Linked DNA regions of Homo sapiens: all the other regions are reported to be linked to region 4. Evidence: microRNA targets listed by miRTarBase, many of them from high-throughput screens and not tested one by one. Region 4 holds a microRNA gene; each other region holds the end of a gene's coding sequence.
Evidence for each region. Region 4 holds the annotated microRNA hsa-miR-6780b-5p (UGGGGAAGGCUUGGCAGGGAAGA, at 2,759-2,781, shown strand). A microRNA usually pairs through its seed, bases 2 to 8, with sites in the 3' UTR of a target mRNA and lowers its output. Matches are read on the target gene's strand: a 7mer-m8 pairs with bases 2 to 8, a 7mer-A1 pairs with bases 2 to 7 and ends in A, and an 8mer does both.

Region 1 (5,185 bases), not on the chromosome of region 4:
TAGAGCTGGGGTTTCACCGTGTTGGTCAGGCTGGTCTCGAACTGCTGACCTCATGATCCGCCTGCCTTGGCCTCCCAAAGTACTGGGATTACAGGCATGAGCCACTGCGCCTGGCTGCCCGGCCGTATTTTTATTGTTTTTTTTGTTTTTGTTTTTTTGTTTTTTTTGAGACGGAGTCTCACTCTGTAGCCCAGGCTGGAGTGCAGTAGCACAATCTCTGCTCACTACAACCTCCACCTGCCGGGTTCAAGCGATTCTCCTGCCTCAGCCTCCTGAGTAGCTGGGACTACAGGCGCATGCCACCACGCCTGGCTAATTTTTGTATTTTTAGTAGAGATGGGGTTTCACTATGTTGGCCAGGCTGGTCTCAAACTCCTGACCTCGGGCTCCCAAAATTTTGGGATTACAGGTGTGAGCCACCTGGCCTGGCCACCACATGGGACTATTTACCCTACCAACTGCTGTTGGATACTTAGATGGTTTTGTGCATTGCCAGTACTTGGATACTTGTATGCACCCGTGTTCCTCTAAGGGGGACGCCCACAAAAGCTATTGCTGCCACAAGGTATGTGCATTCTCATCTTGACACCATGTCTTAGTCTGTTTTGTCTTGCTGTAACGGAATTGCACAGACTAGGAAACGTGTAATGAACAGAAATCTGTCTGGGCGCGCTGGCTCACACCTGTAATCCCAGCCTTTTGAGAGGCCAAGGCAGGTGGATCACTTGAGATCAGTAGTTCAAGACCAGCCTGGCCAACATGGTGAAACCCCATTTCTACAAAAAATTAGCCCGGCATGTTGGGGCATGCTTGTAATCCCAGCTACTAGAGAAGCTGAGGCAGGAGAATCGCTTGAACCCAGGATGCAGAGGATGCAGTGAACTGAGATTGTGCCACTGCACTCCAGCTTGCGAGACAGAGTGAGATTCTGTGGGAGACAGAGCGAGACTCCCTCTCAAAAAAAAAAAAAAAAAAAAAAAGAGAAATCTATGGGCTCACAAATCTGAAGGTTGAAAAGTCCCAGATGGTGGGGCTGGTATTTGGTGAGGGCCTTCCGGCTTCCTTGTAACATAGCGGAAGGCATCTCATCTGAGACAGAGGGGTGAACTCATTCTTTATAAGGAATCCATTCCCGTGAAAACTCACTCACTTCCATGGTCATGGCATTAGTGCATTTCTGAGAGCAGAGCCCTGGTGACGTAATTATCTCTTAAATGTCTCACTTCTAAAATCTGTAGCACTGCAGGTTAAATTTCCAACCCAAGAACTTTGGGGGACACATTCGTATCCCAACACACGGTTTTATCAAATGCTTCTCCAAAGTGATTGTTGCCAGTTACCACACCCTGGCCATCCAGATGGGCCATTTCCCCTAGTGTCCCTTTAGCAGCAAGGACAGTTGGGAAAGGGTGGAGCTGGGACTGACCCTGTGTCTGTAAATATTATATAATTATATACCCTGCTTCAGAGTCCCCCTCTGTTGCCCTGGAGTGCAGTGGCATGATCATAGTTCACTGTAGCTTCCAACTCCTGGGCTCAAGCTATGATCCCCCTGCCTCATCCTCCTGAGTAGTGGGTACTATAGGCATGTGCCACCATGCCCAGCGAATTAAAAAAATTATTTTTGTGTGTGTGGAGATGGAGTCTTGCTATGTTTCTAGGCTGTTCTTTTTTTTTTTTTTTGAGACGGAGTCTCGCTCTGTCGCCCAGGCCGGACTGCGGACTGCAGTGGCGCAATCTCGGCTCACTGCAAGCTCCGCTTCCCAGGTTCACGCCATTCTCCTGCCTCAGCCTCCCGAGTAGCTGGGACTACAGGCGCCCGCCACCGCGCCCGGCTAATTTTTTGTATTTTTAGTAGAGACGGGGTTTCACCTTGTTAGCCATGATGGTCTCGATCTCCTGACCTCATGATCCACCCGCCTCGGCCTCCCAAAGTGCTGGGATTACAGGTGTGAGCCACCACACCTGGCCTATACCTTGCTTCTTTCTCTTTCTTTCCTTTTTTTTTTTTTTCTGGAGACAGTCTCCCTCTGTCGCCCAGGCTGGCGTACAGTGGTGCAATCTCGGCTCACTTGCAACCTCTGCCTCCCGGGTTCAAGGGATTCTCCTGTCTCAGCCTCTCGAGTAGTTGGGACTACAGGCTTGCATCGCCACACCTGGCTAATTTTTGTATTTTTAGTAGAGACAGGGTTTCACCATGTTGGCCAAGCTGGTCTCGAACTCCTGATCTCAGGTGATTCGCCCACCTTGGCCTCCCAAAGTGTTGGGATTATGCCCTTCCTTCCTTCCTTCCAGACAGGGTCTTGCTCTGTCACCTAGGCTAGAATGCAATGGCAGGATCTTGGCTCGCTGTAACCTTTATCTCCTAGGTTCAAGCAATTCTCCTGCTTCAGCCTCTTCAGTAGCTGGGATTACAGACACTCGCTACCACGCTCAGCTAATTTTTGTATTTTTAGTAGAGACGGGGTTTCGCCATGTTGGTCAGGCTCGTCTCGATCTCCTGACCTCAGGTGATCTGCCTACCTCCCTGCTTCTCATTGAGGTCTCTGCCAGTCAGGTATCAGCACAGGGAAAGGGCTCAAGGGCAGTGTGTGGCCATGGCCCTGTTTGCAGAAGATGGCAGTAGGAGCAACCCTTTCTACATTTACTCAACACAGCCGCTTATGACCAGCCTGGTTAGGCCTCAGGGCAGTGTGCGGAGACTCACTGTGATCTTAGCTCCAGGTGCTCCTCCAGCTGGAGAGGCAGCCTACGGCTGATCACAGTGCAAGGCCAGATGTCCCTTTCTGTCTCTGTGACGGCAGAAACGAGGTCTGTCTCATGACTCTATCCCAAGCACTTGTCACAGTGGTGCCTCTGAATATGTTACGGGTCATTCACTCATCCATTAAATATCAAGCGCCCCTACAACACCTCATGGGGACTTCACTTTTTATTTTGTTTTTGAGACAGGGTCTCACCCTGTCACCCAAGCTTGAGTGCAGTGGCTTGATCATCGCTCACTGCAGCCTCCAATTCCTGGGCTCAAGTGATCCTCCTGCCTCAGCCTCCTGAGTAGCTGGGACTACAGACACACACCACCATGCCTGGCTAATTTTTTTTATTTTTTTATTTTTGTAGAGACGGAGTTTCATCGTGTTGCCCAGGATGGTCTTGAACTCCTGGGTTCAAGAGATCTACCCACCTCGGCCTCTCAAAGTGCTGGGATTACAGGCATGAGCCATGGCACCAGGCCAAGCTTCACTTTTACCGGGAATGGGGATGATGAAGGCTAGGAGCGTCCCGGTCTGGAGAAGCCCAGGCCCCTTAGCCTTTCTTCTGATGGAGCCACAACTGCCAGGGCCCACCTCTCCCACCCACTCACAAGCAGGGCTCACAGAGCAGAGCCCCCGATCAGAAGCCTCTCCAAGGCCAGGCTGCAGGGAAGGCAAGCAGAAAGAGTATCCACTGTTCCAATCTGATTTTATTGAAAAGGAAACATACAAAAATCATGTACAAAAAAAATTAACCAAACATGTACAGAAAATTCATTCCGGTATCTACAGCAGCGCATATACAGTATCTTACAGGCTGGGCCATCCCTCCCCACTCCCAGACTCCTCCCTCTTCCGAGATTTCCCCCCCTCCCTGACTCCCCGTCTTCCCCCCAGCGCTTGGCCCTGGGGACTAAGGCTGGGGCGGCTTCAGCCAAAATCTCCCACCCCCCAAATGAATGCCAGTGGTCACACGTGCTCTCTCTAAACCTATGCAATGGGATTGATGGGGCGGGGGGCGGTCACGGGCAGAGCACAGGATTCACAGTCTGGGCCCCTCCTGGCCACCCCCTGATGAAGGTGAGGCAGGCATGCCCACCACCCGCCGGCTGGCTCAGGGAAGATGGCTGGGCGCCGGGCTGGAGCAACCGGCAAACGAGCCCCACTCTCTGGCTCCAGGAGGCTAGTGGTCACGTTTGGCTCATTTGCTCTTCACGGGCCCCCTCCCAGGAGGAGGGGGGGAAGCACCAGGGGCCTGAGGCCAGGCCCAGAGTGAAGGAGCACCGAGAGGAGAGCCCCCCCCTCCCAGTGTCACCCCTGCAGCTGGAACGGGCACCAGCACAACAGCCTTTCCTGAGATGGTGGTGGGCGGCAGAGGCGGGCGGCTCAGTCCCCACCCCCTCGGTCACCGCCACCTTCCGATGCTGAGTCCATCAGCCGTCCCTCTCCTGGCTTCTTGGCCAGGGACCCAGGAGTCCGCATCTCCGTCAGTGCACCCCAGGCTGGGCTGGGGCTGGAGTGGCTGCCCCGGCCCGCCCCCGGGACAGGCAGGGCTGGGAGTCCAGTATGCTACATGGTGCAGAGAAAGTCCCCCGCGCTGGCCAGGGTGTCAGGAGGTGGGAGGGGCCTGCCCCCCGAGTCCCTGACGTCCACCGGGCGGGTGCAGGCACCTAATTGGGCTCCATCTCGGGGGCTCTGTGGCCCCTGGGTAAGGGCAGGAGTCCCATGATGAGATTGTACAGGACCCTCCAGGGTGAGGGGCGGTGCCGCTGCTGCTCCTCTTGTCTCTGGGGAAAAGAGAGAGAAGGGGCAGTTAGCAGGGGACTGAGTATGGTGATGGGAGTGGGGATGGTCAGCTCCAGGGGCAGCGAGGCGACAGTCTCGCCCACCCTATTCCAGCTCCTCCCCCCGCCTGGGCTAATGTCCATGTCTCGGAGGTCACATCCTCATCCAGGACATGAGACCTGGAGGCAGAGGACAAACACGGAATGCCTTCAGCAGAGAGCTGGGCACCAAGCGAGTGCGTGGCACATTAGCTGTGACTGCCCCGTCTCTGTTGTACATTTGAGAAAGACATCCCCCAAGGGGCTGAAGGATGGACTGCAACCTATCCTGCCCCTCCCTACAGGGCTGGCAAGATGAGGAGAAAGGAGCAGGGTGCCCACAGTCTTGGCAGTTCTAGAACAATCTGTGGAAGGAGGAGAACTGGGAAGAGCCCCCCCCATTGCAGAGGCTTCAACAGAAGCACCTCTAGGCAACGCCGAGTGAAACCCCTGCCCCCTCTCCAGTGGCAGGATGAAAACAAGGTGGTCTCTAGGACCCTCTCAGCTCCAACATCCTAGGAAGTGGGCAGGCAGGAGGCTAGGTCCTAGGAAAGGCTCCCGACTGGTAAAAATTAAAGGCAATACTAAAAAGAGTACAGAGGCCCGGCG
Region 2 (5,185 bases), not on the chromosome of region 4:
GACAGATGAGGAGGTGGCTTCAGAGAGCTTATGGCTCTCGAGGGCAGAGCTGGCACCAGCCCTTGAGCCAACAGCAAAGCCTGTGCTCTGTCCAAGGAAGGGATTTACTAGGGCAGCCTGTGATCTCCTCTAACCACCACTCCCTTGTCACCCAGGAAATCCAAGGAGAATCCTCGGAACTTCTCGGATAACCAGCTGCAAGAGGGCAAGAACGTGATCGGGTTACAGATGGGCACCAACCGCGGGGCGTCTCAGGCAGGCATGACTGGCTACGGGATGCCACGCCAGATCCTCTGATCCCACCCCAGGCCTTGCCCCTGCCCTCCCACGAATGGTTAATATATATGTAGATATATATTTTAGCAGTGACATTCCCAGAGAGCCCCAGAGCTCTCAAGCTCCTTTCTGTCAGGGTGGGGGGTTCAGCCTGTCCTGTCACCTCTGAGGTGCCTGCTGGCATCCTCTCCCCCATGCTTACTAATACATTCCCTTCCCCATAGCCATCAAAACTGGACCAACTGGCCTCTTCCTTTCCCCTGGGACCAAAATTTAGGGGCCTCAGTCCCTCACCGCCATGCCCTGGCCTATTCTGTCTCTCCTTCTTCCCCCTGGCCTGTTCTGTCTCTGAGCTCTGTGTCCTCCGTTCATTCCATGGCTGGGAGTCACTGATGCTGCCTCTGCCTTCTGATGCTGGACTGGCCTTGCTTCTACAAGTATGCTTCTCCCACAGCTGTGGCTGCAGGAACTTAATTTATAGGGAGGAGCCTGTGGCAGCTGCTGCCCCAGCCACAGCTGCACTGACTGTGCTCACCACACATCTGGGGCAGCCTTCCCTGGCAGGGGCCCTCGTGGCTTCTCATTTTCCATTCCCTTCACTGTGGCTAAGGGGTGGGGTGAGGGGATGGAGAGGGAGGGCTGCCTACCATGGTCTGGGGCTTGAGGAAGATGAGTTTGTTGATTTAAATAAAGAATTTGTCATTTTTGAATGGACTCTGGCTGTGTCTGGGGCCACTGTGCCACTGTGGGGAAGGGAGGAATACTGGGCAAAGTGCAGTGAGTGATACAGGAAGGAGGGCAGAGATGAGAGGTTGCAGTGCTAACCCCTGTCTTGAGTTTCCTCCCCATCCTCATTCTCACTTGCTTTGGGGGGTGGTGTAGGTTGGAATTGAGAGGGGACAGGACCTCACAGCTGAATGCAGACTATGTAGGCAGTGTCCACAGGGAAGTAAGGCCCTTTCTAGTCAATGGAATTGGCTAATCCTGCCTGCTGCCTTTGGCTGGGTCTGCCTCTACAGTTGGAACAGCTTCTCAGTCACTGAGAGGGTGGGGCTGGCTGCTGGCACAGCCATCAGTCCTGGCAAGTGAAGCTGTCTCCAGGTGAGAGGTCCCTCAGGCGGGCTTGGGGTGAGGTGGTCTGTGTTGGAGTGGTGAGGGTGGGGGTTGCAGTGGTGAGGAAACGTGGAGAGCTGGGGAATGAGCAGGAGTGAGTTGGTGGTGGTCGCTGGAGGGAAGAAGCCGTGTTGATTGATCCTAAGCACCTGTGAACTAAGTGCCTGGGAGAGACTAAAACTTCCTTTCTAGGGTGTGGCCTTGGGCCATGATCATCAATTTTGGGTCAGGTTGTCTCTAGCACCTATCCTTGACCGAGGCATGAGTGTTCCACCCACAGTTTCTTTTTTTTTCTTTTCTTTTTTTTTTTGAGACAGAGTCTTGCTTTGTCACCCAGGCTGTAGTGCAGTAGCATGATCGCTCTTGTTCTCCAGGCTGGAGTGCAGTGGCATGATCTCGGCTCACTGCGACCTCCGCCTCCCAGGTTCAAGCGATTCTCCTGCCTCAGCCTCCTGAGTAGCTGGGATTACAGGCATGTGCCACCACGCCTGGCTAATTTTTTTGTATTTTTAGTAGAGACGGGGTTTTTCCACGTTGGTCAGGCTGGTCTTGAACTCCCGACCTCAGGTGATCTGCCAGCCTCGGCCTCCCAAAGTGCTGGGATTACAGATGTGAGCCACCGTGCCTGGCTATTTTTTGTATTTTTTATAGAGATGGGGTTTCACCATGTTGGCCAGCCTGGTCTCGAACCCCTGAGCTCAAGCGATCTGCCTGACCTCATGGCTCTGCCTTTTCTTGCCATCTCCCAACTCCCCAGCCTCAGCCTCCCAAAGTGCTGGGAGCCCCACCCATAGTTTCTAACCACTAGGTGTTACCTTTACCCCAAGGCTTCCCAGTCAGACTCTGTGTCTCCCCAGGGGGAATTTGAGGGACGCTGGGCCAGTCTGACATTAAGTTCCAGCCCCATCAGCCTCACCCAGAGGCCTGGCCTTCCTTGCCCCTTTCCCCTTTTCTACCTGAGGGTATCTCTGTCTCCTAGGAGGAGAAAGCCACAACACTGTGCCTGAGGGAAACAGGTTTGTATCCAGAGCTTTTGTTCTCTCCCCTTTTGTTCCCCTGCTTCTCTGAGGCTCCCTCTTCCAAAAAGCACCCACTAGGGGCGAGGCCCAATGCCAATTCTTCATAGCCATGGCTGTCAGCCTCATCCCCACACCACGCTTAGCCTTGCCACACCACACCTCGGGAGAGACTGTATTTGCTTGCTTGCTGCACTCCCACAGGCTGTGGCACAGATAAGATAGGCTGCAGCCTATGGGCAAATTCCCAGGGGATTAGATCCTTTATCTCTCATTCAGGAAGGCTTTGTGGAATGCTAGTCAGGGAGAGTGATGTCATTGCAGAGAAAACATTGAATTCGCTATGTATACTAAAACAACAAGCCGTTTGCCACCTTCCCTGGTTTAACTATTTATAGCTATAAATTATTGGCCACACGCCTCACAACTCTGAGAAATGCCATTTGTTACAGTGCCAGCGCTGAGAACCACTGCCTTCTCCCAGAAGATTCTCACAAACGCCCAGGAGGTGGATATTACTGTAATGTGTTCCCCATTTTGTCTTTAGATGAGGATACTGGTCTCAGAAGGGCCAAGGAATGTGCCCAGGGCCACAAAGCAATTAAGGGAGAAGCAGGGATTTGCATCCAATCAAGCTGGCTCTGAACCTGGCTGAGCCTGTGCAGCTCTAGGCTCAGCAAGAAGTGAAGCTGTCAAGGGACTAGGGGACAGAGGTGGTGGTGGGTGGCAGGGCAATGCTCCTCATCTGTAAGCTGAAGATGATAATTCCTTCCTCGTGAAGTTGCCGTGAGGATTAGATGAACCCTGGAAAGCACTTTGCATGGGGAATGCTAGCACATAGTGCTCAGGAAATGGAAGTGTGGGGAATAAAAGGTGGAACATTTGTGTATGGACCCTGGGCTGAGAGGGAGCTGATGCCCAGCAGTTTCATGCCCTTCACCACTGTCCTGTTGAACACGGGCCAAGATGCTTTCAGTGGCCCTATCCCCTTTACCTGGAACAGCTTATTTTCAAGGGAGACACCAGCTGTATTTGAGAGGGGCTCAGCCATTGGGCTCACCTTCTTCTGGCTGCACCCACCACCACCCAAGCCTTGTGAGGAATCTCAATGTTCCCTTAATTCATCTAACTGCAGACTCAGCTGCTTCCTTCTGGAGCCGGCCTCCAGTGGCATCTCAACATTTTCCAGCTTTCTGTTTGTCTGCTTTCTAGCATTTTGTCTCACCTGAGGTTACAATTTCATCCTTAACTTGGCTTCTCTCATCTCTGACCCCACTTCAGGCCCTGGGGCCCAGACTAGGCACCAGCCTGTGTATGGTTCTGCCTTTTCTTGCCATCTCCCAACACCTTATTCTGTGTGGCTGTCTACAGTGGTGTCTCTCTCTCTTTCTTACATTTTTCTTTATTATTATTATTATTAATTATTATACTTTAAGTTCTAGGGTACATGTGCATAACGTGCAGGTTTGTTACATAGGTATACATGGGCCATGTTAGTTTGCTGCACCTATCAGCTCGTCATTTACATTAGGCATTTCTCCTAACGCTATCTCTCCCCCAGCCTCCCACCTCCACAACAGGCCCCGGTATGTGATGTTTCCCTCCCTGTGTCCATGTGTTCTCATTGTTCAACTCTTTCTTTCTTTCTTTCTTTTTTTTTTTTTTTAACTTTAAGCTCTGGGATACAGGTGCTGGACATGCAGGTTTGTTGCATAGGTATACGTGTGCCCTGGTGGTTTGCTCCACCTATCAACCCATCACCTAGGTTTTAAGCCCCGCATACATTAACTGTTTGTCCTGATGCTCACCCTCCCCTCGCCACACCCCTTCCCCGACCACAGACCCTGGTATGTCTTGTTCCCCTCTCTGTCTACGTGTTCTCATTGTTCAACGCGCTACAGAGGTGTCTCCTAACACTCTGCACTTGCAGGGCTTCTCCTGCCGCCTGGAACAATCTCCTTCCAGGTGCTGCCCTCACTTGCTCCTTTATCTCCTTCAGGTTTTTGTTTAGACGTCATCTTCCCTGATCACCTCATTTAAAACTGCACACTTCACCCTCAGCCTGGACCCCGTGCTCCATTCCTGCTTTCTTTTATCACCACCTGACACCCAATATATTTTACTTATTTATTTTCTGTCCCCACCCATAGAATGTAAACTACACAAAGGCAGGCTTTTGTTGGTTTTGCTCATGTAGAGTAGTGGTTGGCATGTTGTAGGTGCTGGATAAATATTTGTTGAATGAATGAGTGAGCATGACACCACCCTCATGCTCCTCAGCCCCCTGGCTTGGCAACACAGTGCCCAGCCAGCCCAAGGGCCTAGCAACCCAGCCTTTCATCATATCTGAGATACAGCCCAGCTCATGTCTCTGCTTCCAATGCTTCCAGATTATTCATTTCCAAAAAATAAAAACCCAAGAAGCTGCATTTCCTACAGATAGAGGAGAGGAGGTTGGAGGGTGGATTGCATGCTCTGGACACATGGAAGGTGATTTGAGGATTTGGGGGAAAAAAATGGGAGGAGGGCAGGAGGAAGAGGTAGGAGCCAGCTTGGGTTCATTTGCTCCTTGCCTTCAGCCTGGAAGTGGAAAATCACTGTGGAGGTGGAGGGAAAGTAGGCTTGGCCCATGATGGCCAATGGAAAGGAGAGTTGGGGAAGGGAGGCAGAGAGGAGGAGGAAGAGGGGGAGAAGGAAGAAGGTTTCAGATGCTCCACCCAGTTTGGCTCACCTGTGGGTAACAAGCGTAGCTCTCTGCAGCCTATTCATATGCGTGTGAG
Region 3 (5,185 bases), not on the chromosome of region 4:
AAAAGGAGGCGGGCAGTGACTCCTGAGGGGAAGGAATGTTCTTAGTCTCGGGGAAGAGTTGAGAGACTGTGTGCGGTGGCCCGATATCTCCAGAAGAGGAGGGGAGAGGGCCCTGCGACTTGAGGAAGGGTTCCCGGCCACTCTGAAGTGGGGGAAGGCTACCAGTAGCTGCCGAGGTCCCGTGACTCGAGTGGGAGAGTAGGCAGAGGACCCTGGAGACGGGGAAAGGGGCATCTTGGCGAGTTTGGCGGGGCTGGCGGAGAAGGGACCCGGGGCTCTGAGGAGGGAGCTGGGGAATCAGTGCCCTGGGGGGCACGATGACTTCGGATTCGCTGACACCGGGGGAGGGCAGAGGTTCCTGACCTTGCAGGGGAAGGGAGCCTCATCACTGCGGGGGAGAGGGCAATCCCAGATATTACAGGGGGAGGGCGTATCCCTGTTGTTCAGGGTGAAGAGGTCCTGGGTGACTCCCAGTAGGAGAGCTGACTGCTCAACTCCGGAGGCCAGAGTGAGCCGCGGCACGGAACCGACGGGGGTGGGGTCTCCCTGGGTGGGTCCTGGAGCCTGGCCCAGCCCAATGACAGTCCCGCCCGCGCCCGCTGCGCTCAGGTGCCGACGGACCCCGGCCACTTTTCGGTGCTGCTAGACGTGAAGCACTTCTCGCCGGAGGAAATTGCTGTCAAGGTGGTGGGCGAACACGTGGAGGTGCACGCGCGCCACGAGGAGCGCCCGGTGAGCCGCGGCGTGGGGCGGGGCTGGAGCGGGTACGCTCGCCGCCGGGCCGGAGGGGCGGGGCCGCTCAAGCCTCCCTCCCCTCCAGGATGAGCACGGATTCGTCGCGCGCGAGTTCCACCGTCGCTACCGCCTGCCGCCTGGCGTGGATCCGGCTGCCGTGACGTCCGCGCTGTCCCCCGAGGGCGTCCTGTCCATCCAGGCCGCACCAGCGTCGGCCCAGGCCCCACCGCCAGCCGCAGCCAAGTAGGAGGGGGCTGGGCCGCGCCCGCACCCCGGGAGCCTCCTCAGGCTCCCTCTATTAAAGCCGATCTGACTCCGCCCAGCCAGATGTCCCGAGTGCGCCAAGGACTGTCCTCTCACCCACTCCTGGATTCTGCCCTGACCTCCATCCTGGACACTGCCTTGATAACATAGACCCTTCCACTGACACCCTCGCTCTCACACCCCCTCCAGCTTTCCGACCCCACACCGACAACTCCCCGGCTTCCAGACCCTACCAGCACTACCCTAACCCTCAGCCGACAGTCTCAGCCCCACCGACCCACTTTCTTGGCATATAGCCCCACTTAAGACCCCTCCTCTACTTCCTTCTGAGTCCTCTACAAAGACATCCGGGTACTACATTTCCATCCCTTCCCTATTTTGACACCAAATTATGGTGTAGACAGCCCTCCCCCAACCCCAGGCCAGTCAGGCACAATCCCCCCACCCCCCAAACGTCCTGGACTGCACAGACCTCCCACTCCAGACCATCCAGGCCTGGTTCCCAAGACCCGATCCTTCCCCTGCAACCAGACAGTCTACAACTGCCCCCTCCAGCCCATTTTCTGCCGTGAAACCCCAGCCAGCCACACCAGACTCTGGAACCCTTTTTCGACTGCCCCAACTCTTGGACACCAGGCCAACTAGAACACCCAACACCAAACTGTACAGACTCTCCCACCCCAACCTCCCCAGACTCTGCACGGATGTCCTAGGCCCCCTCCCCAACTCTAACCAGACCCCATCCCCCTAAGTCCCTTTGTCTTGACCCCCAAGTCTTCAACCAGATATCCTCGGCAACCCACCTCCCACCCTCCTCCTCTTCTCCTTCAAGACCCAACTGAGCACCCGCTCTGATTCCCCACAGCCTTTCTCCCTGCCACCACTCCCTTAGTCTTTCCCAGGCTTACTCTCCCAATAAATGTGCTAGAGCTCTGCCAACTGCTTTGTGCCTGGGCCAGGAAGGAGGGACCGGAGCAGACACCAGTGTGGAGCTGGGGGATGTTTACTGGTGTGGGGGGACCTGGGAACATCACTGTCGTTCGTACATCTCTCGTAGGATCTTCATGCTTTCTGAGTAACGAAGCTGGTTCCGATGAGAGGCCTCCTTCCACCTGGGGAGGCAGAGGGGAGACTCAGCAGTTGCAAAGGGCCCTACGAGGGGCAAGCAGGCTGGGGGACGCTCACCTCTGGCGGATGCGTTTCCAGCGCTGCATGTTGCGATAGATGAGTGTGGAGGGTGAGGGCTCGGGCTCAGAGGGCTGCATGGACAGACAGGCCAGGTTGAGTGGCCATTCCTGAGCCCTACCGCATGTGCCCCATAACCCTGGGCCAGCCTGGCATACTCACCTCATCGTCAGGGGTGCCCTGCATCTCAGGCTGCAGTGGAGATGGGATGCGGGATCTGCAGGCATCTCCGGGTGGCCCCGGGGGTGTGGGTGGCGGCAGCTTGTACACATCACGACTCTTGCTGTTGGTTACCTCTGAGCCCTGGGGACACAAGGGCCCCATGCCAGGCCCAAGAGAGTCAAAGCAGAGGGGCTGGGAATCCACATTCATCCCTCCTGCCTTTCCCAGCAACAAATGGCATGAGGGGCTCGCTAAGGGACTCAGACAGGAGGCATGTATGAAGGGCAGACACCTCAACCAGCCAGCGGGTCAAGTGTGCCTGCCCCAGGGACCCCTGTCTTCTCCTATCCAGCCCAGAGACTCCATCTACACCTGTCAGCCCAGGGAGTCGCGTCTGCCTGCCTCAGGGAATCCTGTCTAGGGGGTCACGTCTGTGCCACCTAGGAAGCTCTGTCCATTTCTGACAGTCCTATATGTCTGAAGGGTCCTATATGTCTGTCCTGGGGACCCTTGTCTACCCCGCTGGGTCAGATGGCTTATAGACTCCCATCCATTCCTGCCCAGCCCCTGCTCCTCAAGGCCTGGTGGCCACTTCTGTCTGTACTAAGGACCCTTGTCTAGCCCCTCGGCTCTTGGGAACCCCTGATCTTGGAGGTCCACATCTAACTGTCCAGGGTAACCCTGTTCCCTGTCTCCCAGGCCAGGTGGTTACGTATGTCTTCCCTAGGGACTCTGATCCACACCCCAACCTAAGAGTGCACATCTGTGTGCCTAGCCTGATCCAGGATTCACGTGAGGGACCTGTGTCTGTCTATCCCACTAGCTTAGGGGCAGGATCCTTTGAGCCTATCCACCCACTGCCCTGGCACCAGGCTGCTGGGCTGGGACCCACTACCCATCCCACCTCCTCATCCTCAGGCAGCGGGGGCAGGGGTGAGCTGGGAGAGCATTCACGCTCGCGCACAGAGGGGCTGTTGCGCATCCAGGCGCGGCAGATTGGGTACAGTGGCGTGTTCTCGCTGAACTGGGCCAAGTCCACGCTCCGGTCGAACAGCTTGATCACATATGTGTCTGGGAAGGTGGGGATGGGAGGTGTGTGAGCATCCTTGCATAGGCCCTTGGCTCCTTACCGACCCTCTAGGGCCACTGTCTACTCACTGGATCGCTGCGGCCCTCCCTCAGCCAGCCCATCATCCATCTCCCTCCTCTTCTTCCTCCGCTGGTGGGGGAAGCGGGCAGATGGCCTGCGTAGGGAGAGGGAGTGTCAGGACTGGGGTAGGAGCTGGGAGCCTCTAGTCAGCTGGCTGGGACCCTGCCACCTTACCTTTTGCCAGTGGCTGCGATGGAGCAGTCCCTGTGGGGAAAGACAGTTGACCCTCAGACAAACGCCTGTGCAAAACCCTGCAGAGGGCACCCTGGGGATACTGGTATCAAACCTGAGATGCTCACATGAACCCCACTTGCCTCTTGGGCCTTTTGTCCCACCCATACCCATGGGGGTCTAGGTGGCAACCACGGGGGGACCTAAGCTTCTCCTGCCACAGGGTCTTTGTACAGGTGGAGTGGTCCGGGCCACGATGGAGGTAGCGCTGGGCTGAGCGGTCAGGGCTTGGATAAGGAAAGAAGTTACCAACCACGAACTCTCAACTCCAAATCCAATCAGAAAAACTCACTTATTGTGGGTGTCTGAGGGTGTTTTCCCAGCTTCCTCATCCAGACGCTCCCTAGAGGCAGAAGAGATCTCTCAGCTCAGGGTTCCAGGGCCCCAGAGAAGGAAGGCACCGAGCAGCCTCCCCATTAAGCACCTTCCTCCCCAAGTCAGCCTGTGGGGTCCCACCCAATCCACCCAGGATCAGAGGGCCCAACCCACCAGGGTGCCCGGCCCTGTGACCCCACGCTGGCCTACCTGTCCATGTGACTCTTCTCCAGCAGACACTGCAAGACAGCATCCAGTTGGTTCCGGGCTTTGGCCATCTCCAGCTCTGGGGCAAGAGAGGACCCAGCAGGAGTCAGCTCCCAGGCCCCAGCTAGGTGGGCAGCTGACTGGGCCAGGGAAGGGCGTGCGTGTCCTCTGCCCTGGCCAATCTCAGAGCCAGGCCCAGGCAGCCTGAAAGGGTGCAACAGGCAGAGATGGCTGGAGTGATGCCCAGAGCTCTGAGTTCCAGAGCTGTCCCACGTGATTGCTCTGTGACAGGAGGTAAGGCCAATCACCTTACCTTATGAGCCTTTTGGGTTTTAAAAAAATGTGTTTTAATATAATATAAATTTATTACAAAAAAATTGTATAGAGATGGAGTCTTAATGATATTGACCAAGCTGGTCTTGAACTCCTAGATTCAGGTGAGCCATCTCGGCTTCCCAAAGTGCTGGGATTACAGGTGTGAGCCACTGTGCCTGTCCCAGTGGCAAGGTTTAAATATGCTATATATTACAAATAATAACCCACTGAATTATCACAATAACCCTTAGAGGTAGATGTGATTTTTTTTTTTCTTGAAAAAGGATATCACGATGTTGTCCGGTTTTGAACTCCTGGGCTCAAGCGGTCCTGCTGTCTCAGCCTCCCAAGTAGCTGGGGCTATAGGCACATGCCATAGAGCCCAGCTCAGATAGATATGATTTTTATTCCTATTTTAAAGATGATGAAACTGAGGCACAGAGATGTTAGGCCACGTGCTCAAAGGCACACAGCAAAGAAATTGCAGAGCTGATGATTTGAACCCAGGCTGTCTGGTTCCAAAGCTGAAGTTATGAGACAGAGGCTCAACCTGAGTGCAGAATCTGGTTGAGGCAGTGGTATAATTTTATTTTAATTAATTAATGTATTTCTGTTTTGTGA
Region 4 (5,375 bases):
CCAGGATTTTTTTTTTCCTAGTTAGTCTTCATGTTAAGTACAATCTTACCTCAAAATTGTTAATGTCTGTGGTTTAAAAAAAAACATGAATCAGAAATGGTGTGGGTAGTTTAGAAAATGAGTTAGGTTCAGGTGGCCGGTTAGCTCAGTTGGTCAGAAAATGAGTTAGGTTCATCTGGGAAGACTTCCTGGGAGAAAAGACCCTGGGTTCTGAGGTAAAGTGGAGTAGGGATAAGATGTGCAAGGCAGGAAGGGAGTTGATTCCTTAGGTAAGTGAATTATTGGAGGTGAGGGGTATGTCTGGCTCCTGAGTCAGCCACGATGTGCCTCCTTGTCTTCCCCCTTGTCCCCAGGAGTCCAGATTACATCCTACCCTGCAGTCCTGGATGGCGCCTCCGACTTGCAGCTTCCTTCCTGCTTTCCGTCTTCCCGCTGCTAGACCTTCTTCCAGTTGCTTTGCCACCAGGGGCAGGCCCAGGACCCATAGGGCTAGAGGTGTTGGCAGGGTGCGTGGCAGCTGTGGCCTGGATCAGCCACAGCCTGGCCCTGTGGGTGTTGGCACATTCCCCTCATGGCCACTCCCGGGGTCCCTTGGCCTTGGCCCTGGTAGCCTTGCTGCCAGCTCCAGCCCTAGTGCTGACCGTGTTGTGGCATTGCCAGCGAGGCACACTTCTGCCCCCACTTCTCCCAGGGCCCATGGCCCGCCTATGCTTGCTCATCCTGCAGCTGGCTGCACTCTTGGCCTATGCACTGGGATGGGCAGCTCCTGGGGGACCACGAGAACCCTGGGCTCAGGAGCCCCTCCTGCCCGAGGATCAAGAACCTGAGGTGGCTGAAGATGGGGAGAGTTGGCTGTCACGCTTTTCCTATGCCTGGCTGGCACCCTTGCTGGCCCGTGGGGCCTGTGGAGAGCTCCGGCAGCCTCAGGACATTTGCCGCCTCCCCCACAGACTGCAGCCAACCTACCTGGCTCGTGTCTTCCAGGCACACTGGCAGGAGGGGGCACGGCTGTGGAGGGCCTTGTATGGGGCCTTTGGACGGTGCTATCTGGCACTTGGACTGCTGAAGCTGGTGGGGACCATGTTGGGATTCTCAGGGCCCCTGTTGCTCTCCCTACTGGTGGGCTTCCTGGAAGAGGGGCAGGAGCCACTAAGCCACGGCCTGCTCTATGCTCTGGGGCTAGCCGGTGGGGCTGTGCTGGGTGCTGTGCTGCAGAATCAGTATGGGTATGAGGTATATAAGGTAACACTTCAGGCACGGGGGGCTGTGCTGAACATCCTGTACTGCAAGGCTTTACAGCTGGGGCCCAGCCGCCCTCCTACTGGGGAGGCCCTGAACCTACTAGGCACTGACTCTGAACGGCTGCTTAACTTTGCTGGGAGCTTCCATGAAGCCTGGGGCCTGCCCCTGCAACTGGCCATCACCCTCTACCTGCTGTACCAGCAGGTAGGCGTGGCCTTCGTGGGTGGTCTCATCTTGGCACTGCTGCTGGTACCCGTCAACAAAGTGATTGCCACCCGCATCATGGCCAGCAACCAGGAAATGCTACAGCACAAGGATGCGCGGGTTAAGGTGAGCGGGTACTTGGGGTCCCTCAGCTATCTGGAGACCCCACCCAGCCCAGGTCCCCAGGTCTTCCCATGCACACTACCTGAGGGAGTGAGAGTGACCTCAAAGTTAAGAGCTGAGACTGGAGAAAGGTAGACCTGGGTTCAAATCCTGGCTCTACACTTACTGGTTCAATCACTTCAGACAAGTCACTTAACCTATTTGGGCTTCCCCTTCCTCATCTGTAAAGTGAGAATAGTAGTAGCTTACCTTGTAGAGTTGTAAGGATCTCATGAGATAATGCTTAGTGTAGTGCCAGTCACAAAGTAAGCTCTGAATACATGTGGCCACCCTGGGAGGTAGGAAGTCATCTGTCTGGCTCCAAACAGGTCTTTAGGGCCAGAGCTGGGACCCAAGTCTCCAACCTCCTTATCTAGGGCACAGACCACCCCATGGCTGCATGTAGAGACCTAGGAGAACCTCAGCTGCCTCTTTGGGTAGGCTGAGGGGAAGGGAATAGGTCACTTTCCTGCCTGGGTCAACTCCAGGTGTTTAGGGTTTGGCTGAATCTGCAGAGCTCTGGGTTCTGCAGTGATTGTGGGTACCTTCACAAAGGGGATGGCAGTCCTGGGGGTTCATACAGCATAGTTGTCGACCCTTAGTGGAACAGCTCAGAGTGCTCCTGGAGGGAAGGGAGGTTGATAGATGGTTATGGCATGAGGCATTTTCCCCTACCTGTGACAGCTACAGACGAGGAGTTTTGGCCCTTGCCCATCTTCCCTGGGCCCATTAGCCTGTTTGACCCTGGGCTGTAGTGTGGCCTCTTATGCCTGTGTACTTCTACAGGAATAGTTTCTGTGCCACTCAAGCCGGGGGCCGGAACTGGGGGGCCAGCCCCCGAAGCCCACATCTTTTGGTTTTGGGAGATAGCCCTTTGTCCCTCATCTAATGGGAGGAGAGCTTTTACTCCACTGTGGTGACCTGGCTCCACCTTCCACCACTCCTCCTAGGAAGGTGGGGAATTCCCACTCCAAGCTGTCCCCAGCTGGAGCAAATGGAGAAGTAAGAGACTGGGAGGGGAAGCAACCCAGGGCTGAAAAGGATTTGAAGGGCAGGATTTCCAGAAAGTACTGAGGTGAGGAAGAAAACCAAGACTAGGGCAGTGCAGAGTATCTGGGAGCTTAGAGTACTGAACATTCTGCCAGCAGCCTGGGGAAGGCTTGGCAGGGAAGACACATGAGCAGTGCCTCCACTTCACGCCTCTCCCTTGTCTCCTTTCCCTAGCTTGTGACAGAGCTGCTGAGTGGCATTCGGGTCATCAAGTTCTGCGGGTGGGAGCAGGCACTGGGAGCCCGAGTAGAGGCCTGCCGGGCTCGAGAGCTGGGGCGACTCCGGGTCATCAAATACCTGGATGCGGCCTGTGTATACCTGTGGGCTGCCCTACCGGTTGTCATCTCCATCGTTATCTTCATCACCTATGTCCTCATGGGGCACCAGCTCACTGCCACCAAGGTGAGGACCAGGAAGGAAGGGGACCAGCATCAAGGAGACTTCAGCGAAGTGAAGACAGAGGCTTGGGCCCTCAGTGCTGGCTGAGAAGGAGGGAGGGATCCCTGACTGCCTCATCTCTCAACCAAGGGAAAACTGAAGAAACCTTTTTGTGGGGGCCTTGGATATATAACCCTCCCCTCTGTGAAGGAGTTCCTTTCTTTCCTCTCCTCTACCTTTCACTCCAGCTTCTATTCAGTTCCAGGCTTGGGGTTAGGTCTCTTCATCCTCGTTCTAATGGCCTTAGGAAAAAAATGTATGATGCAATCCTGGGTCTAGCCAAGGCCAGGTGATGTTGCTACTTGGAAATTCTAAAAAAAAGACTCAAAATGAGCTAGGCCTGCCTAGTTAAAAAGATGCAACCTTGGCCAGGCGTGGTGGCTCACACCTGTAATTCCAGCACTTTGGGAGGCCAAGGCAGGCGGATCACCTGATGTCAGGAGTTCGAGACCAGCCTGACCAACATGGTGAAACCTTGTCTCTACTAAAAATATAAAAATTAACCAGGTGTGGTGATGCATGCCTGTGATCCCAGCTACTCAGGAGGCTAGGGTAGGAGAATCACTTGAACCCTGGAGGTGGAAGTTGCAGTGAGCCGAGATTATGCCACTGCACTCCAGCTTAGGTGACAGAGCAAGACTCGTCAAGAAAAAAAAAAATGCAACCTGAATCCCTTGAGGAACATTGGAATTTCTAGGATTCTTTAAGTGACCATCTCTGCCACATCTGATCCCAGGATTGGCCAGCCAGCCCTTCAGTTCTGTCATTGCCCAGTTCTTCCCTCCGTAGACCTGTCCACAGGGCTTCCCATAGAAACAGGCCCTTAGATAACTCCTGGGGCTTCACCCTGCACCCACCTCACTCAGGTGTTCACGGCCCTGGCACTGGTGCGAATGCTCATTCTTCCTCTCAACAACTTCCCTTGGGTGATCAATGGTCTCCTGGAGGCCAAAGTGTCCTTGGACCGGATCCAGCTTTTCCTCGACCTTCCAAACCACAACCCCCAGGCCTACTACAGCCCAGGTAATGGGAAGCTAGTGGGCAGAACCTGGCACAGGGTGAGGAGGGAAGTGGAGCCACTTGGGTGCTGCGCATAGATGTCACCAAGAGGGCTTAGAGAGAGCGGAATCCAAAACAGACTCATTTAGCTTTGGGCAGGTAGATATGGGGCTGGCAAGTGAATTACATGATTTACCCTCCCCAAACAGATTGTGGTAGATTAGGAGCCCAAATCAAGTGGCTTCTCTGTTCAGATCCCCCTGCAGAGCCATCTACAGTATTGGAGCTGCATGGAGCCTTGTTCTCCTGGGACCCAGTTGGAACCAGCCTGGAGACCTTCATCAGTCATCTCGAAGTGAAAAAGGTTTGTTGGACAGACACCCTGGGAGAGTCCTCAGACTAACGAGAGAGATGGGAACTCATGTCAGAGAAGCAGTGACCGAGCCAATCATAGCTGATGGCTCTGCAGCTCTAATTGCTGCAGGAGGGATAGGCATTTGGTGAGCAGGTTCTAATCATGAGGAGATGACACCTCACATCTGAATCTCAGAATAGTTGCACCTCTCTCTGGTCTTTAGGCAGCTTGTATCCATCCAGTCCAGACCAATGGGTGTGCTTGTCTCTCCATGTCCCTCAGAAGCTGCAGCATTCAGAACAGGCCCTGGGGTTTATGTAGCATCTCCCCCAGATTGGGGATCTGGGGGAGAGGCCCAGCAAGTGCTTCCAAGAAATATTTTGCAAATGGGGATCCTCTGTTTAGGCTGGTGAAAAGCAATCACACCCTGTGACTCATGCTACAGCATACAAAGAACTTAAAATGGGGCATTCCTGGCAATAAGCCAACTCCTGTTCACCTCCTGTTCTGAGTTTTCACTCTCTCCTGACCTTTGTCCAACCCTGTGCCCCACAGCTCAACCCGGCATTCTCTGGTGGTGGCTGAATTGCCTCCACCACATTTGGCTCACGTTTCTGGCTTGGGCTGTATGTTTTGTTTTTCCTCTTAGTTCAGGCAAGACAAGGCTAGATTTGTACAAAGGAATTTTGCTAATGTGTTAGTTGGGGCTTTTTTGGGTATAAGTTACAGAAACACACTAGAGCTAGCTTAAGCAAACAAGAATTTATAATAAGGATGTAGAGATACATTGCAGAATCCAAAGGCAGGAACGCAGCTGGATCTTAGAAACAGCCCAGAACCAGGCCTCAACTCGCAGAGCTCTCTGCTTCTGTGTGCCTCTCTCCCTGTATTTGCCTGGTTCTCTTCTCTCTGTGGACACACCCTC

Region 1: miRTarBase lists BBC3 as a target of hsa-miR-6780b-5p. Seed matches in the 3' UTR shown: 7mer-m8 at 3,992-3,998.
Region 2: the mRNA of TAGLN2 is a reported target of hsa-miR-6780b-5p. Seed matches in the 3' UTR shown: 8mer at 490-497 and 7mer-m8 at 602-608.
Region 3: miRTarBase lists HSPB6 as a target of hsa-miR-6780b-5p. Seed matches in the 3' UTR shown: 7mer-m8 at 1,515-1,521 and 7mer-A1 at 1,855-1,861.

What each region holds. Positions count from the first base shown.
Region 1 is chr19:47,217,379-47,222,563 of GRCh38, forward strand. BBC3 (BCL2 binding component 3) reads right to left here. Exons shown (of 4, transcript NM_014417.5): 4 at 3,446-4,540. The coding sequence ends at 4,424. Among named protein-coding and RNA genes, the nearest start is that of MIR3190, 7.0 kb to the right of the region's middle. RefSeq lists a silencer at 2,641-2,841.
Region 2 is chr1:159,913,912-159,919,096 of GRCh38, reverse strand. It overlaps TAGLN2 (transgelin 2), which reads left to right. Exons shown (of 5, transcript NM_003564.3): 5 at 156-986. The coding sequence ends at 297. Among named protein-coding and RNA genes, the nearest start is that of TAGLN2, 9.0 kb to the left of the region's middle. RefSeq lists an enhancer at 291-1,180.
Region 3 is chr19:35,751,319-35,756,503 of GRCh38, reverse strand. HSPB6 (heat shock protein family B (small) member 6) reads left to right here. Exons shown (of 3, transcript NM_144617.3): 2 at 610-732; 3 at 821-1,938. The coding sequence ends at 982. LIN37 (lin-37 DREAM MuvB core complex component) reads right to left here. Exons shown (of 9, transcript NM_019104.3): 2 at 4,253-4,328; 3 at 4,020-4,070; 4 at 3,671-3,700; 5 at 3,505-3,590; 6 at 3,251-3,417; 7 at 2,347-2,487; 8 at 2,185-2,258; 9 at 1,985-2,111. The coding sequence ends at 2,030. Among named protein-coding and RNA genes, the nearest start is that of HSPB6, 3.1 kb to the left of the region's middle.
Region 4 is chr6:43,431,789-43,437,163 of GRCh38, forward strand. It overlaps MIR6780B (microRNA 6780b), which reads left to right and starts at 2,754; the gene lies at 2,754-2,832. ABCC10 (ATP binding cassette subfamily C member 10) reads left to right here. Exons shown (of 22, transcript NM_001198934.2): 3 at 354-1,572; 4 at 2,833-3,060; 5 at 3,963-4,119; 6 at 4,350-4,459.